Linked DNA regions of Homo sapiens: regions 1 and 3 are each linked to region 2. Evidence: fine-mapped expression QTL. A gene starts in region 2. Each other region holds a variant in brackets. All regions are shown on one strand. Distances are from middle to middle. Region 1 has its middle 35 kb from the start of FBXO48. Region 2 holds the start of PLEK (pleckstrin). Region 3 overlaps ANTXR1 (ANTXR cell adhesion molecule 1).

Region 1 (5,674 bases), 67 kb after region 2:
GGCTGGAGATTGAGCTCAGTCACCAATGGCCCATGATTTAGTCCAGGGTTCCCCAACCCCCAGGCTGTGGACCAGTACCAGTCTATGGCCTGTTAGGAACTGGACTGCAAAGCAGGAGGCGAGCAGTGGGTGAGCAAGGATTCCCGCCTGAGCTCCGCCTCCTGTCAGATCAGCAGCAGCATTAGATTCTCGTAGGAGTGTGAATCCTATTGTGAACCGAGTATGCAAGGGATCTAGGTTGCGTCATCCTTATGAGAATTGAATGATAAATGTAATGTGCTTGAATCGTCCTGAAACCACACCCCCCATCTGTGGAAAAATTGTCTTCCATGAAACTGGTCCCTGGTGCCAAAAAGGTTGGGGACCACTAATTAGTCAATCATGCCTACCGAATAGAAACTCCATAAACCCCCTAACTGACAGGACTTGGAGGACTTCAGGTTGGTGGAAACACAGACCTGCTGGGAGGGTGCAGCATGTGGAGCAGGACGGAACCTCTCAGCTCCACCCTCATACTTTGTCCTGTGTATCTCTTCATCTGGCTGATCTTAAGTGGTATCCTTTAAAATAAACTGCTAATTGTAAGTAAAGCACTTTCTTGAGTCCTGTGAGCCATTCTAGCAAATTATCAAACCTAAAGAGAAGGTCATGGCAACCCCCAATGGATAGCTAGTTAGCCAGATGGACAGGTCACAGTTTGGGACTACTGACTGGTGTCTAAATTTGGTTTCAGCCTTGCGAGGCTGAGTCCTCAACCTATGGGGTCTGCACTAACTCTGGGTAGTTAGTGTCATGAGTAAATTGTAGTACACCCACTTGGTATCTGGAGAGTTGGAGAATTGCTTAATGTGAGGTAAACTCCACACATTTGGTGTGAGAAGTATTTTGAATGTATGAATTTTTCTTTCCTTTTAGGGGTGCAGTGTACAAATTGGGCAGTTGCAGGAGGGAATCATAGGCTGCTGCTGGGATGTGCTATGACTTGGTCTATGAATTAGCTACACTCAATTAATATGTGGAAGACAACTCTTCAAGCTGTACACTTAAGATGAGTGTACTTTTTGCATTTAATTGTATATTCTTTCTATAAAAATTATTGTATGAGTTTCCTATTGTTGTAACAAGTAACCACAAATTTAGAAGCTTAAAACAACACAAATTTATTATCTCACAGCTCTGGAGGTTATAAGTCTGAAATGGGTCTCGAGATGTTGGGAGGGCTGCATTCCTTGATGGAGGCTGTAATTTTCTAATTTTACTATTCACTTATCTTTCAACAGATGCTCAGTGATTGTCAGCCACTAAAAGCCTCTAATTACAACCTATCTGCACTTCTAATTCCACCCTATTCTCCCCATGCAGGTAGATGACTAGGTTAGGCTTTTATTTTCAAGAAGGCTAAAGAATAAGGTACATTCAGCTTGTTAAAGGCATATTCAACTTATTGATACTATCCTGTTGCCTATACATTTACAGACATTCATGTGACTATCATTATTATTAGAGAGAATGTTCTAATCATTCTCTCTCTATAAAGGTGTTTTCTCAGGGCCCACTGTATGGTTAGAAATTGGAAAAGACCTTCCAGTTTCCTTCACAGATGATTCTCCTCACATTCTCTCCATTTGCTTTTTTAATATATTTTTTGAGACAGGGTCTTACAATGTTACCCAGTCTGGAATTCAGTGGCGTGATCAAGTCTCACTGCAGCCTCAACCTTCTGGGTTCAAACAATTCTCTCATCTCAGCCTCCCAAATATCTGGAATTACAGGCCTCTCGATATATTGTCCAGGCTGGTCTTGAACTCCTGGGCTCAAGTGATTCTCCCATTTCGTCCTCCCAAAGTCTTGAGATTACAGGTGTGAGCCACTGTGCCTGGCCTTCATTCAAATTTGCCTGTGTATTTTTTTATTCTTGACAAATGAGTCAGCAAAGTTGCAAATGTCCCCTTATTTGACTTGGTTCAGTGTTTCAATGTCATTCCAAAACAAAGATGCCAGGGATGCTGTTCCAAAGTCTGTGGTCTCTATGTGTATGGAAGCACTAGTGAGGGCACGCTATTTCTCTTTCTACTCAATCCACACACTGGGATGATGGCTACAAATGCTCATTGTGTTACGGGATCCTTGTGGTGTCGCTTCGCCTGCTGGAAACCTCTGTGGCCAGTGGTGCCTTTGCCCAAGTTTTGTTCTGGCCTGCTGGGCTTGTTCCACCCAGTTGGCCCAGCAGGCTGCACTCAGCTCATGCTACTGGCCTGGATCCCATGCCTGCCAAGGGCAAGCCAGGCGTGGAGTAATGAAGGGTATGTGAGTGAGCGTGGGGTCTAGCCACCGCACATAGCTGGGCATGCCAGCTGCTGCTGTGGGGCAAGCAACTCCAGGTGCTGGTGTGGGTGCTGGCTCCCTGCAAGGCTGCATCTGGACTAGGTGCACCACAAGCAGCTTCCATAGCTGGCACTGGCAAATGCTCTGGGGCCTGGAAGCTTGCAGACTCCAGAAGCTGCAGGGCTCCAAAGAGGGAGTCACAGCCCTGGCTCAGGGAACACCCAGGCCTGGGATCCCCAAAGGGCCGCAGCTCTTCTCTCCCTCTTTTTGCCTGCAATGTGGCGAGCAGGGGCATGTTTCAGCCCTGTTTGTGTTACAGCTCTTTTAGCCCTGCCATTCAGTGGGTCCTGAGTTCTTGTCCTATGTCCAGGAAGAATGAGGTATGCAGGCAAGTGGAGGGTGAG[C/T]GAGATGAAGAGGAGTTTTATTAAGCAATAGAACAGCTCAGAGGAGAACCACAGTAGGTAGCTCCTCTCTGTAGCCAAGGTGTCACAATGAGTGGTCAGCTCTCGCAGAGAGGGTAGCTCCCCTCTGTAGTCAGGTAAATCCGAGGAGTGTTCAGCTCTCAGCAGAGAGGGTAGGTCCTCTCTGCAGGCAGGTCATCCTGTCACCTCTTCAGTTCTCAGCACAGAGGTAGCACCTCTCTGCAGGCAGGTCATCCTGTTGTCTCTGCAGCTGTCAGCAGAGAGGAGGCCCTGGAGTGGGTGAATCCTCTCTTCAGGCAGGTCATCTTGTCATCTCTTCAGCTCTCAGCACAGAGGTAGTGTCTCTCTGCAGGCAGGTTGTCCTGTCATCTCTGCAGCTCTCAGCAGAGAGGAGGCCCTGGAGTAGATGGATCCTCTCTGCAGGCAGGTCATCCCTTCATCTCTCTGTCTTCTCCCCATCATCTCTCCATCCTCTCTTTGACTCTGGCTGAGTCTGGTGTTTTTATAGGTCTCAGAGAGGAGGAAGTGTGTGCTGATTGGTCCATGGGCAGCCATTGGCAGGCCCAAGAAAAAGCACCACAAGTTCTCCCTTGGGTCCTCAGGACTGGCGGCCCAGCCCCCAGGCTTCAGGCCCTCCCCGGCTTGAAAGTGCGGCTTCACCAGGTACCCACCCACTTCTACTCAGGAGCCTGTCTGCCTCCTGTCACTGTTCGTGGCGCTCAGGCTTTTCATGCCAAGGGGCACCTTTAGGCCAGCACTGGGCTTTCTCCAGCCCCCCAACTCAGCCTCCCTCCTGTGTTTGTCAATGCCCTAAGTCCAGACGGGGCCGAGGCAGCAGGGGGCTGGCGTGTCAGTGCTTCCCCGAGTGTGTGCACACCTGGCTGGGCTGTGACAGCACCTGAGCTTGGCCCCGCCTTTGCTCCAAGATTGGAGCAGGTGCTGGCAGCAGGGAGAAGCCAGGCAGTGGAAGCAGGCATTTCCTGTCCTGCAGGGGAAGGGGGCATGCCTTCTCAGGCCTCTGAGAGTGCAGAGATGCTTGGATCTGCAGCCACAGCTTGGGCAGCTGCCGCTGTGCCTGGGATGGTGGGGCTCCTGCCTGCTTCTGGCTCCTGAGAGCACAGGGGTGCCCTGGTTGCTGCTGCAGCTTGGGTGGCTGCAGTTGCCTCTGGGGTGCTCTGCCCTGCCAACTCGGAAAGGGCGGGGCTCTTGCTTGTTCCCAGCTCCTGTGTGCTCCATGGAGTGCACAGTCCTGGCCACACCTCCTTCCTACATTTTCCCTGTAGCAGCAGTGGATGAGGTGCAGGTTGGGCAGCGACCCCAGCCAACTCCTGCACAAATGAACCTGATGCTCCAGGGGCAGCCCTGTGAGTCCCAGCTGTGCCTGTGGCTGGGTGCTCATGGGTTCCTGGGATGCAGCAGGGAGCAAGGCTGAGGCCCTGGTGGAGACTACAGGCCTGGGAGTGGGTCCTGCCCAGCTGTATGAGAGTGGGGTTGGTACAGTTGGCCGTCTTGGGGACACAGGGCACAAGGGCCCACTGCTGCCACTGCTGCCCCTGAAGCCACTCCTGATGCCACCACTGGCATCTCCCCACTGCAGGCAGCATGATGGCAGCAACCCCTCCAGAAGTCCCACCGCCACCATCAATTGGTTGACTGCCTTGCATACTTTCTCTTACAAAGCCAGGTTTTTAAAAGCTGAAATTTCTAAAATCAATAAAAGTGTTAGTTGAAAAGCGAAGTCTCAAAATTACATATACACATAGTTTATTAAATAGTTAATATAGGCAAATTAAGATTTAAAATGGAATAAAATTTAAAGTAATATGTAGGCATTAGTACTGTGTGATTCTTGTATTAATCTGTGTGCAAACAAATGCTTATATAGCATTTACTTTTTAATTCATTCAAAATGAAGTTAAACACGTTAGAAAGAGTTGTTACTACAGGGTATTCAAAAATGGGAAAGTATCTACCCTAGAACTTTGTTTTTTTACTTTTTTTTTCAAGAGTAGAGACAGGGTTTCACCATGTTGCTCAGGCTGGTCTCAAACTCCTGGGCTCAAGCCATTCTCCCACGTCAGCCTCCCAAAGTGCTGGGATTACATGAGCCACCATGCCTGGCCTAACCTACAACTTTGAAAAGAATGCTCTCAGGTAGCCATTTACCTCCTGTTAGATAAAAGGGCTGGGGAGAGTGTTTGCAAGACGTTTGTTCTTCAGATTCTAAAAATATGTCCTTTAGTCAAGGTTGGGGTATTCACTCTTCTTGGAAGATTAATAATTAGGCTGTACCTAGTTACCATAAAAATATTCTGATCAGCTGTTTTTATTCATTGCATTCAATTAATTGATATGCATTCAAAATACTTATCAATTAATCACTACATGCCAGGCAATATTTTAGTTGCTGACCTCCTTGAGCTGATATTCTTACCAAATAGCTTTATCTATTTATGATGTTTATCACATTATAAATATGTCATAATGATATTATGACATTAATATGTGAGATAATAGGAATAGAGTCAAGGGTCAGTGGCCAGTGGTGTTCTCTTGGCAAGGCTAGACAGGGAAGTCCTTGCTAATAAAATGGCACTGGAGCAGAAACCTAAAGGAAGAGAATGAGCCATGTTGACATCTGGGGAAAAAGCATGCTAGACAGAGGAAACTGCAAGTGCACGGCCCTGAGGCATGAGTCTGCCTGAGGAGCATCAAGATCAGTATGGCAAAAGCACAGTGGGCATGGGAGATGGGGAGAAAAAGGGCCTGAGGGTGAGATGAAAGTAGCAGTGGAGTGGTGGAGTAGTGAGCCATCAGAGCCAATTGGCCTACTGGTTCCATCATTTGACCTATGAGCAGCACTTGATGTCAATAGTCCCTCCCTTCCTCCTTGCAGCATTTCACTTTACTTCCTAGTTTCCCTCTGT
Region 2 (5,674 bases):
ACTCTGTTGAGAGAAGTCCTGAAAGGCGTCATTGATTCAGATAGTTCTCTTTACTGACCACTAGGTGTCGCTAAGTAGGCGCGATGACACGTGGCAGGAGGGGGAGGGGCAAAGGCGGCAGCATCCAGTCCATCAATGGCGATGTTCAGCAGATTCACAAATGCCGGAGGTTCCTTGGTGTCAAGACATTTTTACCCCTGCACCTATTCAGGCGCCTGGTACATACTAAACACTTAATACCATGTTTCTTGAAATGAATTATTCGGAACGCAGGGGGTGCTTTTACACCGGAGGCATCCAAAAATAATATGAGGTTTCTGAGTGAGGGTTCTTTAAAGCCTTCTGATCATGCTAGGACAAACAGTGAAGACATTCCAAATTAGAAGTCACTTGGTCAGTTAAACAAAAGGAGATATATTTAACTATGAAATCAGACTTGGTAAATCTAAGAGTGGTTTCCATTGACTATACAGACATAGCAAAATACTTGTTTGAGTGCAGATACAGAAAATTACCCTTTTATTTGTTCCTGTTTTGCTCAGGTGACATCAAACGTTGATCCCTCTACTCTCAGCCCCCAACACTTTATAACAATTTCTAATTAATTTTGGTGCAATGAGAAACTGAAAAGAAACCATCAACGATTTTAAGTAATGGATATTAGCATAAAATGAAAAGTGAGAAATACAGGGGCAGTGACTGTTAGCTAGAAACACAGCTGGAGGGAAGAGGAGAGGGAATCAGGAAGCTCTCAGAAAACCCCAAGAACAGAACTTCTTCTTTCCCCTAACTTTCCTGGCTCCTCAGATGCCCTCGTGGACGTCTGTCAGTTTTGCCTTTCTCGGAGCCATCGCTCATCTATTGTTAATAGCATCTTGATTTTACTTTAGGGGACACCTCCCTTCTCCCATTGAGCATGGTCCTGCTGGGGCTGTCGGTTCACATGTTCCCCCTTCAGATACCGGAGAGAGAAGCACTAGGCCAAGTTAGGCCAATCAGAGGCCTGATCCCTGGAGACTACTGCAGAGTCTGAAAACCACTGGCATTCTTTCATCTTGGTGTCTTGCTTCCTGGAACCCCACAACTGCCCTGATTCCTGTCCTTTCAAAGACCCCAGTCTTCATTTTTCCTGCAGTCTGTGGGCCACTCCATTCTCTTCCAGTAAATTCCTATTTGCCTCTATTAGCCAGAGTTGTTATCTGTTGATTGCAGTGAAAGAACACTGACGGGTGTAATGAGGAAAATCTAGTCCTACGATTGCTTTCATCATCTCTGTTGAACTTATCATTGAAAAGGATCAGCTCTAGGATAACGGAGATTTGCCTTGAAGATGAAGAACAACTAATATTTATGGATACTAGTTATGTTTCAGACACTCTTCTAAATACTTCCATGTCTATCTCATTTAATCTTCAGAATGACCTCATTGGATAGGTGTTATTATCCCCGTATTACAGATGAGAAAACTGAGGCACAAAGTAATAACAAACTTGCTCATTTTCACATGGTCAGATTAACGGGTCTCTAAGTTTATTCTATGGAATATTCGTTTTTCAGGATTATATTGGTTTCCTGGGGCTGCCATAACAAAGTACCACAAACTGGTGGCTTAAAACAATGGAAATTTATTGTCTTACAGTTCTGGAGGCCGTAAGTCTGAAATCAAGGTGTCGTCAGCACCATGTTCTCTATAGCAACTCTAGGAGAGAATTGTTGCGTGCCTCTTCCAGCTTCTGGGGGTTGCTGGCCATCCTTGGCGTTCCTTGGCTTGTAAATGCATCACTCTGTTGTCACATGGCTGTTTTCTGTGTGCCCTTTTCTTATAAGGACACCAGTCACATTGGATTAAGGGCCCACTTGTTTCAGTATGACCTCATCTTAACTAATTATATCTACAATGACCCTATTTCCAAATAAGGATGCATTCTGAAGTGCTAAGGGTTAGGACTTCTTTTTTGGGAGATCTAATTCAATTTATGACAAAAAAAGTTAACATAAATTGTTCAAAAAAGAATGCTATGGCGAAGTAAGTTTGGAAAACACCATTATAGGATTCTTTACTGTAGTACTTTGGCGGGGCGAAGGTCTTTAATTTGTTCATCATTTAGAGGAGTTGCCAACCTGGGATTATTTTGTAAAGTTTCTCAAAAACCTGTTTGATGATGGACTTCTTTTTACAGGCTGACTGTGAGATCAGCACTCAACGTGGAACACCTGTTCTCATGCCTGATGTGAGGCAGTGGCACCCTAGCACATCCCTCCCTGGTTCTTCTGCTTTCCCCTGTGACCTGCAGCGTCAACTTGAGACAACTTTTCTTCTCTGAGCCTGAGTTTCCTTACTCTAAGATAAGGAAAATAATATACTTTCCCTATGGGTTTGATGTGTGGACTCATTTTTGTTGTTGTTTGTTTTGAGATGAAGTCTTTCTCTGTCGCCCAGGCTGGAGTGCAGTGGACCAATCTCGGCTCACTGCAACCTCCGCCTCCCAGGTTCAAGTGATTCTGCTGCCTCAGCCTCCCGAGTAGCTGGGACTACAGGCACACGCCACCATGCCCGGCTAATTTTTGTATTTTTAGTAGAGACAAGGTTTCACCATGTTGGCCAGGCTGGTCTTGAACTCCTGACCCCAGGTGATCCATCTGCCTTGGCCTCCCAAAGTGCTGGGAGTACAGGCGTGAGCTACCATGCCTGGCCGATGTGCAGACTAATTTAGTTTAAAATAAGTAGGCTGAGAAACACTTGATACAGGGCTTGGCATAGAGAGAAGTAGGCATTCATTTAGTAGTTAACTTTGTTATGCTAACCAGATGGTTCTGAATTTCTTGGCATTTTTATTGGGCATTTCCAGGATCTCAAGAATAATCCTTACTCAGGACAATTTTCACCAACAAGTTTTTCTTGTTCATCTTCCTCTTCCTTTCATCACTTCTTTTTCTCTTTAAAAGAGGGATTTTCTGTATGGTAGTAAGAATTTCCCTTAGGTAAATATTCAACCCAACTGTGGTTTTAATAAGTCTCCAGCATTAGCAAGGAATGGGTGGTTTACTCTGCAGTTCCTTATTCTGATCTTCCAACCCAGTGAGGGGAAGAGGATGTGATCATGCGACCGCCAGCAGAAGGGAAATTGTGAAAGCGACCTGCTGTAGAAAAGGCGGCCCACAGCCACCTCAGCATGCAGAGGAGGCCCAGCTGCTGAGAGGAGTTGCCTGAGAGTGACCTTTGCATCTGCCTGTCCAGCCAGCATGGAACCAAAGCGGATCAGAGAGGGCTACCTTGTGAAGAAGGTGAGCGAAGGTGCCACTTACCAGGGTGTCAGTGGACATGGGCTGGGGAGACTTGGGTTCAGCTCCACCGGCTACCTGCTCATCTTAGGAATGTTTCCTGTTCAACCAGTTGGGTTGAAATAGGGGAGCGTGGTAGCACATAGAATGTTGGAGTGGGGTTAGGGGAGTGGGGATACTCATCCAGCCCCGGCTTCCTTACAGTTTGATATTACGGGTCTGAGAATTCCAGATGGCAGGGCCTGGAAGGTGGGGATCTAAGCTAACTCCCTCCAGATTTAGAATATCCTTTTTAAGAGGCACACAGATGTGTTCTGTCAGAAGATATACTCCTCTTCTATGGAGGTTTCTTGGAGGGACTATTCATTTTTTATTTAAATTCCACTTCCCCTCAGTTCTTTTTTTGGGAGGCAAGGGGAAAAAAGTGATTAAAGAGTTGATATAATGATAGAGTAATTACGGCTTATTTCTTGGGCCATCTTCTTGGAATTGACACGTTTAAAAAAAACCTTATCTTTTTTTAATTGGGCTGAAATCTCTTCACTCACAATTCTTAGTAAATTTGCATAATGTGGCATCGAGGTGGTAGATGCACCATTTTAAAGATTAGGGTACTGAAAAAGGCTTAGCCTCCCTGGTGTGCATCATGAAAATTGAATTTTCTTAGTGCTGTTTGTCTTTCTTCGGATGCTGAGTGTGTGCTGTGTGGTTGTGAAAGCTCCCCGGGATGTGAATTCACACATAGGACTTGGTGTCCTGTGGGCAACACCTATATACACAGATATGCTCACACTAACCTTAGTGAGTGGATTGTTTCAGAAATGAGCTGAACGTAGTGCCTTCCTTCAGGTGCTTAGCTTTTTAGTTGAATGAACAGTGAATGTGAGTCTGTTTTAGGCTACTCATTTGTTTCACGTTTTAACCTACAATGTTCTACCTGTAAGGGGGGTTAAATAGCACACATTGCTGCCTGCTTCCATTTTGACTTCAGGCTGGAGGGACCCTAGGTCATCTGGCCTAATTCCTTCATTTGCAGAAGAGGAGACAGACCCAGAAGGCTCGGTGATTGCCCCAAGTCACATGGCTATGACAGTTGTGACCAGCCACTCCTTCTCTGATGCTTAGGTTTCTGATTCATGGCACTGAACTTTGTTCATTACTCCAGCATTTTCTTAAAGCAGATTTATTCCAAGTTAGGATTTGTAGTGTATTTGTGATGGTGAGAGCTATGAGTTGGTACTGGAGAATAAGTGGGCCCTCAGCTGCTAATCTCTGTAGCCAGCTGTGCTTCGAAACATCCTTTGGAAAAGACACACTTATACATAGAAGTGTAAAAGATTACTTGCAATAGGCACCAATAATAATTGGCGAGACCTGGTAATAATTAATATTGACTTATTCCTTTCCTGATCACTTGTGCTAGTATCCTGAGAAGAGCAAGTGAATAGGAACATTTCTGCAAGTTTTTGTTTGTTTTTTTAAACAATTAAAAACATCTTGCAATGAAAATTGCTGTTATAAAGTTTGTATGCTCATATTTTAATCTCCCTAAATTACAAAAATATGAAGACTAAATTTCTAATAAGTGAAGCTGTCTCACTAAAAATTGGGGATGATAGAGTCAGGGTTGTCAAGCATGTGGATTTAAATTAATAAATAGTTTTTAATTAGTGAGAGTAGTTCTCTCAGATTGTAAAAGCCAATCTAGAAAATGTGCCTGGAATTAAATAGTGAAATTTTGTATTGATAGTTTTACAATTTATATCTTCCATAATTTTCATGTTTACAAGTTACATCTTCCATAATTACTGCATTTTTCTCTGGGACCTTTTGAACACTCTGATATAATGCATTAAGATTCTCTTTTTTTTTTTTATTCTTCTAAAACTTTAATTTTAGGTTCAGGAGTATAGGTACAGGCTTGTTATATAGGTAAACTCCTGTGACAGGCGTTTGTTGTACAGATCATTTTGTTACCTAAGTACTATGCCTAGTATCCAATAGTTATTTTTTCTGATCCTCTCCCTTCTCCAACCCTCCACTCTCACATAGCTTCCAGCGTCTCATTTGATATTTTAAAGAAATGTTTGGTCCAGAAATATTCCCTTTTTCAGCTGCAGAACTAAACCTAAAGACAGAGTTTCCTGAGAAGGTATTAAAGTTCTTAACTACTTTAGACATTAAGTTTCCTTCAGTTACCTCACGTGTGGGTTAAAAACTGTATATGTCAAGAATCTGACATATAATTGGTGTACATAAGCTGCATAAGACACTGATTATTTGTATCAGCATCAATATATGCTTCAGTAGATAGTGGGGCCTCCCCTAGATGTTAATGGGGCTATGTACTGGTTCCTGGGTTGGTTGCCAAATTAATTATGAAGGAAGGGCC
Region 3 (5,674 bases), 820 kb after region 2:
ACTGTTTCTTTAGTTGACAATCTAAATCCACCTGTTTTTATATGATCTGCAAACAAAGAATGGTTTTTACATTTTTAAAAGGTTATATAAGTACCTATATAATGTTGCCTCTTGCCCTGCAAATCCTTGGCTCTTTACAGACCAAGACCAAAGGGCAGCTAGGTGATCCAGAGGCAGGCTTCCAAGGCATGGAGAAGGCAGGCAGAGAATGGATGGGGGCCGGCAGGTCAGGGAGAGTGACCCATCCACTCGCTGCCTGCCTTGTACCTCTGCTATAAGCAAGGAGAACAACAGCTCTACCTCACACAAAACTGTCAGCAGGTATTGGAAAGACTCATGGCTCCCCAGTGAAAGGAGCCAGAATCGTGTACTTACTGAATTGCATTGCATTAGACCCATTGCTTTACATGAAATGGGGTTTTTGAGAAGCAGGTGAGCACATTTGCCAAGCAAACCCAGAGAGAACACACGGAGGGAAGAAGTCCACAGTGGGCTCTTCTCCACCCACCATCTCCCCGTCTAATTTAAGGCACCAACCACACCAACCACACTTCCCCCCTTCCTCATTCCAGACTCATGATCGGGAAATTTTCCCTGATATTTAGCCTGCATTTTCCTTTGCTTGGTTTTCACCCCCGGATTTACAATACCCCGTGCTTCTCATTAAATTGGAGCTGACCATTTCAGACAAGTGAAGTCATGCCCAGCTATATGGGCAAATTTTCTTAAAAACCAAAAGAAGAAAAAAAAAAGCGCAACAAAATCTATCCTATGCATGGCATGCACACACTCATGAGTGCATGTGTGTCTGTGTGTAGGGAAAGTTTCTGACGTTATCCGTTAAATCCATTAATTTATTTCCTTTGGGGGAAAGCTGGGTCACACTATTTATCATGTATTTCTTTTTTTTTTTTTTTTTTTTTGAGACAGAGTCTCACTCTGTCACCAGGCTGGAGTGCAGTGGCGCAATCTCAGCTCACTACAACCTCCACCTCCCAGGTTCAAGTGATTCTCCTGCCTCAGCCTCCCGAGTAGCTGGGACTACAGGCGGGTGCCACCACATCCAGCTAATTTTTGTATTTTTTTTGGTACAGACTGGGTTTCATCATGTTGGCCAGGATGATCTCAATCTCTTGACCTCTTGATCTGACCGCCTCGGCCGCCCATAGTGCTAGGATTACAGGCATAAGCCACCGCACCTGGCCTACCATGTATTTCAAAGTGTAAAAAGTCAGGTGTCAGTTTATAGTGGCCTTATAAGTTGAACTACTCTCAGAATTCTCAATCTCTGACTGTCTTCCAGCTGGCTAAGGCAGACAAACCAGAAGAAAAGATACAACTGCTGCCTGGCAAAAAAAAAAAAAAAAAAAAAAAAAAAGAGGAAACCCCACCACAAAAGCTGATGACCCAGGGTGCTTTGGGTTTTTTGTTTGTTTGATTTAAAAATAGGGTCTTGTTCTGTCGCCCAGGCTGTAGTGCAGTGGTGCGATCATATAGCTCACTGTAGCATCAACCTAGGTTCAAGGGATTCTCCTACCTCAGTCTCCCAAGTAGCTGGGACTACAGATATAAGCCATCACACCCAGCTAATTTTTTTAATTTTTTGTAAACATGGGGATCTCACTGTGTTGTCCAAGCTGCTCTCAAGTGATCCTCCCACCTCAGCCTCTCAGAGTGTTGGGATTATAGGCATGTGCCACCGTGCCCGGCTCCCTACCTCCAGAATGCTATGAATGCTGGCTGCATAATCATTCCCAGCACAGTCTTATTGCTTAGAAAGAAACCAAAGCTAGAGTTTACATAGAACTTCCACTTTGCCTTTGTGAATTGGCAGGTATTTTCTGTGGCTAAGATACAGTTTGGGAGCATGGAATTGGTAAATTTCTCATTTTATAGTCAAAATTTGTCAACTTCAAATGAAAGAAAGCTATTTATAAATGTCAGCTAATACAATCTGCCAGAGGGCTTGAGGCTTGTGGATAAATCTTTGTCCTAGCTTCACAGAAGCAGTTGGGCATTTTGCCAGGGAGTGAGGACCAGTGTCTTAAGTGCATGCTGTGGAGAGGTTTGTGCATGACAGACATCCAAGTCTGAGATAGATAAAGCGGAGGCAACTCAGAAGGATCCTCTAAGACTTTAGGTGAAGCCCAGAGACTGTTTAGAAGACTCTTCTATGGCACATCTAGCCCCAAAGGGTTGTTATTAACGAGCCCACTACTACTGTCTTTAAATGACAGACTTCTGCCTACATTCAGAAAAATCAAGGTTCCAAGAGCCTTTGTCATGCAGTGCTCATTGAATTTTGAGAGTTATTTTTTATTCTGATTTTGGTTGTAAACACTGTTTTTTCTAAAGCTTACTTCTTGGTTGCAAACACTGTTTTTCTAAAGCTCTTGCATAAAAACTACCTGTTGTAGGAGTAGAAAGAGGTTATAGGTTGTATTGATTGCCTGGATTGTTTTCTATGCCACAGACTGGAGAGTTTAGGTTCATTTGTGGGACAATCAGAACTCAGAATGCTAAGGATACACCTGGAACTAGCTAATCTCGCCTTGGCCAGAAGAGCCCAATGACAGCAGCTCACCCGGATCAAGCATGCCCTGCAAGTCGGGCAGCGCTTTCTATGCACTAATGCCTTTATTATTGATAACAGCCCTTGAAAGTAGAAAGTACTTATCCATCGGTAAATAGACACCCAGATCAGTAGAAACTACAAATGCAAAACCAGAGCACAGAGGGGTTAGGTAACTTACCCAAATTCACACTGGCCAGTAAGATGTTTCATGGTTCATTTTATTGACTGCAGTGCATCCATTTGGGCTCACA[G/A]TAAAATTCTTTATTAATCAATAGGAGAGAGGACAGGAACCCTGGAGATGAAAGGCCAATCAGGAAACTATTCCCAGAATGAGTGACAGATGATGAGGGCCTGGGCCCAGGCAGGAGCTGTGGAGGTGGTGGGTCAGGGGTGGATGGGAAGAGGCGGCAGCAGAGCTGCTACAGAGAGAACATTAACGAGACACGGTTGATGTTGGACATGAGCAGGTGGCAGAGAGAAGGGAGGTTAGAATGATTCCTGGTACCCAGTGTGCCCATCTGGAGAGATTGGTGGTGCCATGAATCAAGGCAGGGTGTGCAAAAGGAGGAGCAGGTTTGGGGAGAAGAGTTAGTTCAGTTTATAATGTTTGACTTTTTGATAGCTGTGATGTGATATGATACATCCACATTACAATTAAGATTTAATAGGTAAATAGATACCCAGATCTGGAGCTCAAGAGAGGACTGGGCTGAGTATAGAATTTTTGAGTTGCCGGCAGATAGGTGGAAGTTGGACCCATGAGACTAGATGAGAGCACTCAGCTGAGAGATGAGAATAGAGGTGCCAAATGAAGGCCACCATGTCAGGTGTAGGCAGAGGGGGAGGAGCAGAAGAAGCTGAAAAGGACTTGGCAGAGAGGTCGGAGGGAGCAGGTAGAAGCTCGTGGCACAGAGACTGAGGGAGAGTGTGCAGGGGAGAGGCCCAGCACAGCGGATCTCCCCAAAGAACCAAGCAAAATGAGTGTCAAGGCATTTGGCAGTCGGGATGCCGTGGGTGGCCTTAGCAAGAGCAATTTGGGTGGAGTGATTGGGGCAGAAGGAATAAAAACTGTGGCTTGGGGGTAAGAGGAAAATAGTCTTGGAGAAGCACAGAATAGAAGATGGACAGATGCATGCTTACAAAGTTCAAATTGCTGGATTCCTACACTCTGTATTACATTCTTTTCCATCTCTCTACAGAGCCTCCCAAATGATCATTTTAATGACTTTACTATGATCATAGGTAACATTTAATGAATACCTTTTATGAGGCAAGTACCTAACTTCAATATTTAATTTTAAGTCTTATAGCAAGTCTGTAGAGTAGACAGTATTATCATCTCCACTTTAAATATGAGAAAAGTAAGGCTTAGGGAGATGAAACTACTCATCTAACCCATAGAGCTGGTGAAAAGGAGACCCACAGTACAAACTGGGGCAGGCTGGCTTCAGTCACTTTGTGCTTAAACACTACACTGTAGGGTGATCTGTTGCCACAAAGAAACATCATTTTCTACTCATTCTCCTGGTATTATACATCTAGGTGGTTTCTGGTCTTTTGCTATGCATGTAACTTTAAATTTCTGCTGAGTTAATTAATGTGTTCCTTCAACAGCCCAGTGTTCTTCTTTCTGCCCCATCTCATTGCCCATTTGTCACAGAGTTGGGTGATTAGCACACACAGCTCTGTGGGTGGGCTGATTTACAAACCCAAATGCTGGGAGTCCTCTCCTTCTGAAAACGAAGGGGAAAGAAAAAAGAGGCATTCATCCAGGAAACCCACCTGGTTACATCCTGAAATATAAATGCTTATCCAAAAGAACCTTAAAGGAAAACATTTAGCTGGTGATTGGAACGGCTTAATACAGAAAACCATGCAGCACACAGCAGCAGTTCTATCCAGCATTCTAAAATCATTTCAAAATATTTTTCAAGGCGTTTGTAAATTCCTTGCCAAAATAGATGAGAAACACTACACTTGGCAAGACAAAGTTTAACCCACAAGACAAAGTTAAACCCACAAGAACTCAAACAACAGTTTATAAAGATTAAAGAACACAATTTTATATGTGTATATAATCCACCAGAAAATCATTTCAGAACATGAAATATTTGAGATGCTTCTTAACACTGCCCCTATATAAATGCTTTGTGTCCAGGAACTTAAACTCTTTAGACTCCTCCAGCCTTCCCAGCACTGTCATTCAAAGACCCCTGCAAGATCAGGATTTTCAAACGTTCCTAAGGCTTGGGTAGGAAATACATTTTACATTTTGGCCCAGTTTGTGCACACACAGTCATACACACACCCATACACACTTAACTGAGATAAATTTTTCACAAAATAATGCTTATCCTCACCATGTGCAATTACTATTTTCTCTTCTATTCTATTTCTTAAAAGTTCTGGTCCCATACAAAATTGATTTCATAAGGGCTTAAAGGGTTGCAACCCACAGCTGAGAAACCCTATGTTCTAAAGGATCTAAATTAAAGCGCTTTCACCAGAAGATCTGCATGAGGAAGAATCTGCAATTGGTGTAATAGAAAGCATATGTGATTTGGAATTAGACAGACATGGATTCCAATCTCAACTCTGGTTTATAAACCATCTGCCTTTGGGCAAGTTACTTGATCTCTCTTTGACCCTCCATTTCCTCTCCACAGCCCTCTGGGACTGCTGGGACAATTCAATTAGAGAACACTCATGGAAGCACCTACCACTTAGTTACATTCATTCCTCCAACAAATATATATTGAGCACCAGATGTTGTCCTAAGGGATAGGCAGACAGAAGTGAACAAAACCATCAATACCCCTGCTTTCATGGAGCTGGCATTCCAGGGGGCACAGACAATCAGCAAATTAACATAGAATATATCAGGGAGTGAGAAGGACTGTATTAATTTCCTCTTGTCGCTGTAATGAATTACCAGAAACTTAAAGGTTTAATCAACACGAATCTATTATCTTACAGTTCCAGATGTCATAAGCCCCAAACGGGTCTCACTAGACTAAAATCAAGGTGTTGGCAGAGCTGTTTTCCTTTTGGAGACTCTAGAGGAGAATTTATTTCCTTGTCTTTTATAGATGCTAGAGG

What was found. PIP is the estimated chance that this variant, and not a neighbour inherited with it, causes the effect. A credible set is the group of variants that fine-mapping cannot tell apart.
Region 1: its variant is the best candidate, but not a certain one, in a credible set for the expression of PLEK in whole blood (TOPMed, PIP 0.80).
Region 3: its variant is the best candidate, but not a certain one, in a credible set for the expression of PLEK in whole blood (INTERVAL, PIP 0.61).

Annotation. Positions count from the first base shown.
Region 1 is chr2:68,429,530-68,435,203 of GRCh38, forward strand. No RefSeq gene overlaps it. Among named protein-coding and RNA genes, the nearest start is that of FBXO48, 35 kb to the right of the region's middle. The variant C/T (reference allele first, on the strand shown) is at 2,730.
Region 2 is chr2:68,362,109-68,367,782 of GRCh38, forward strand. PLEK (pleckstrin) reads left to right here and starts at 3,174. Exons shown (of 9, transcript NM_002664.3): 1 at 3,174-3,285. The coding sequence starts at 3,244. LOC101927723 (a long non-coding RNA gene) reads right to left here and starts at 4,296. Exons shown (of 2, transcript NR_187652.1): 1 at 3,307-4,296; 2 at 1-351. RefSeq lists enhancers at 133-202, 3,134-3,213.
Region 3 is chr2:69,186,684-69,192,357 of GRCh38, forward strand. The region is part of intron 16 of ANTXR1 (ANTXR cell adhesion molecule 1); the gene reads left to right. Among named protein-coding and RNA genes, the nearest start is that of MIR3126, 86 kb to the left of the region's middle. The variant G/A (reference allele first, on the strand shown) is at 2,827.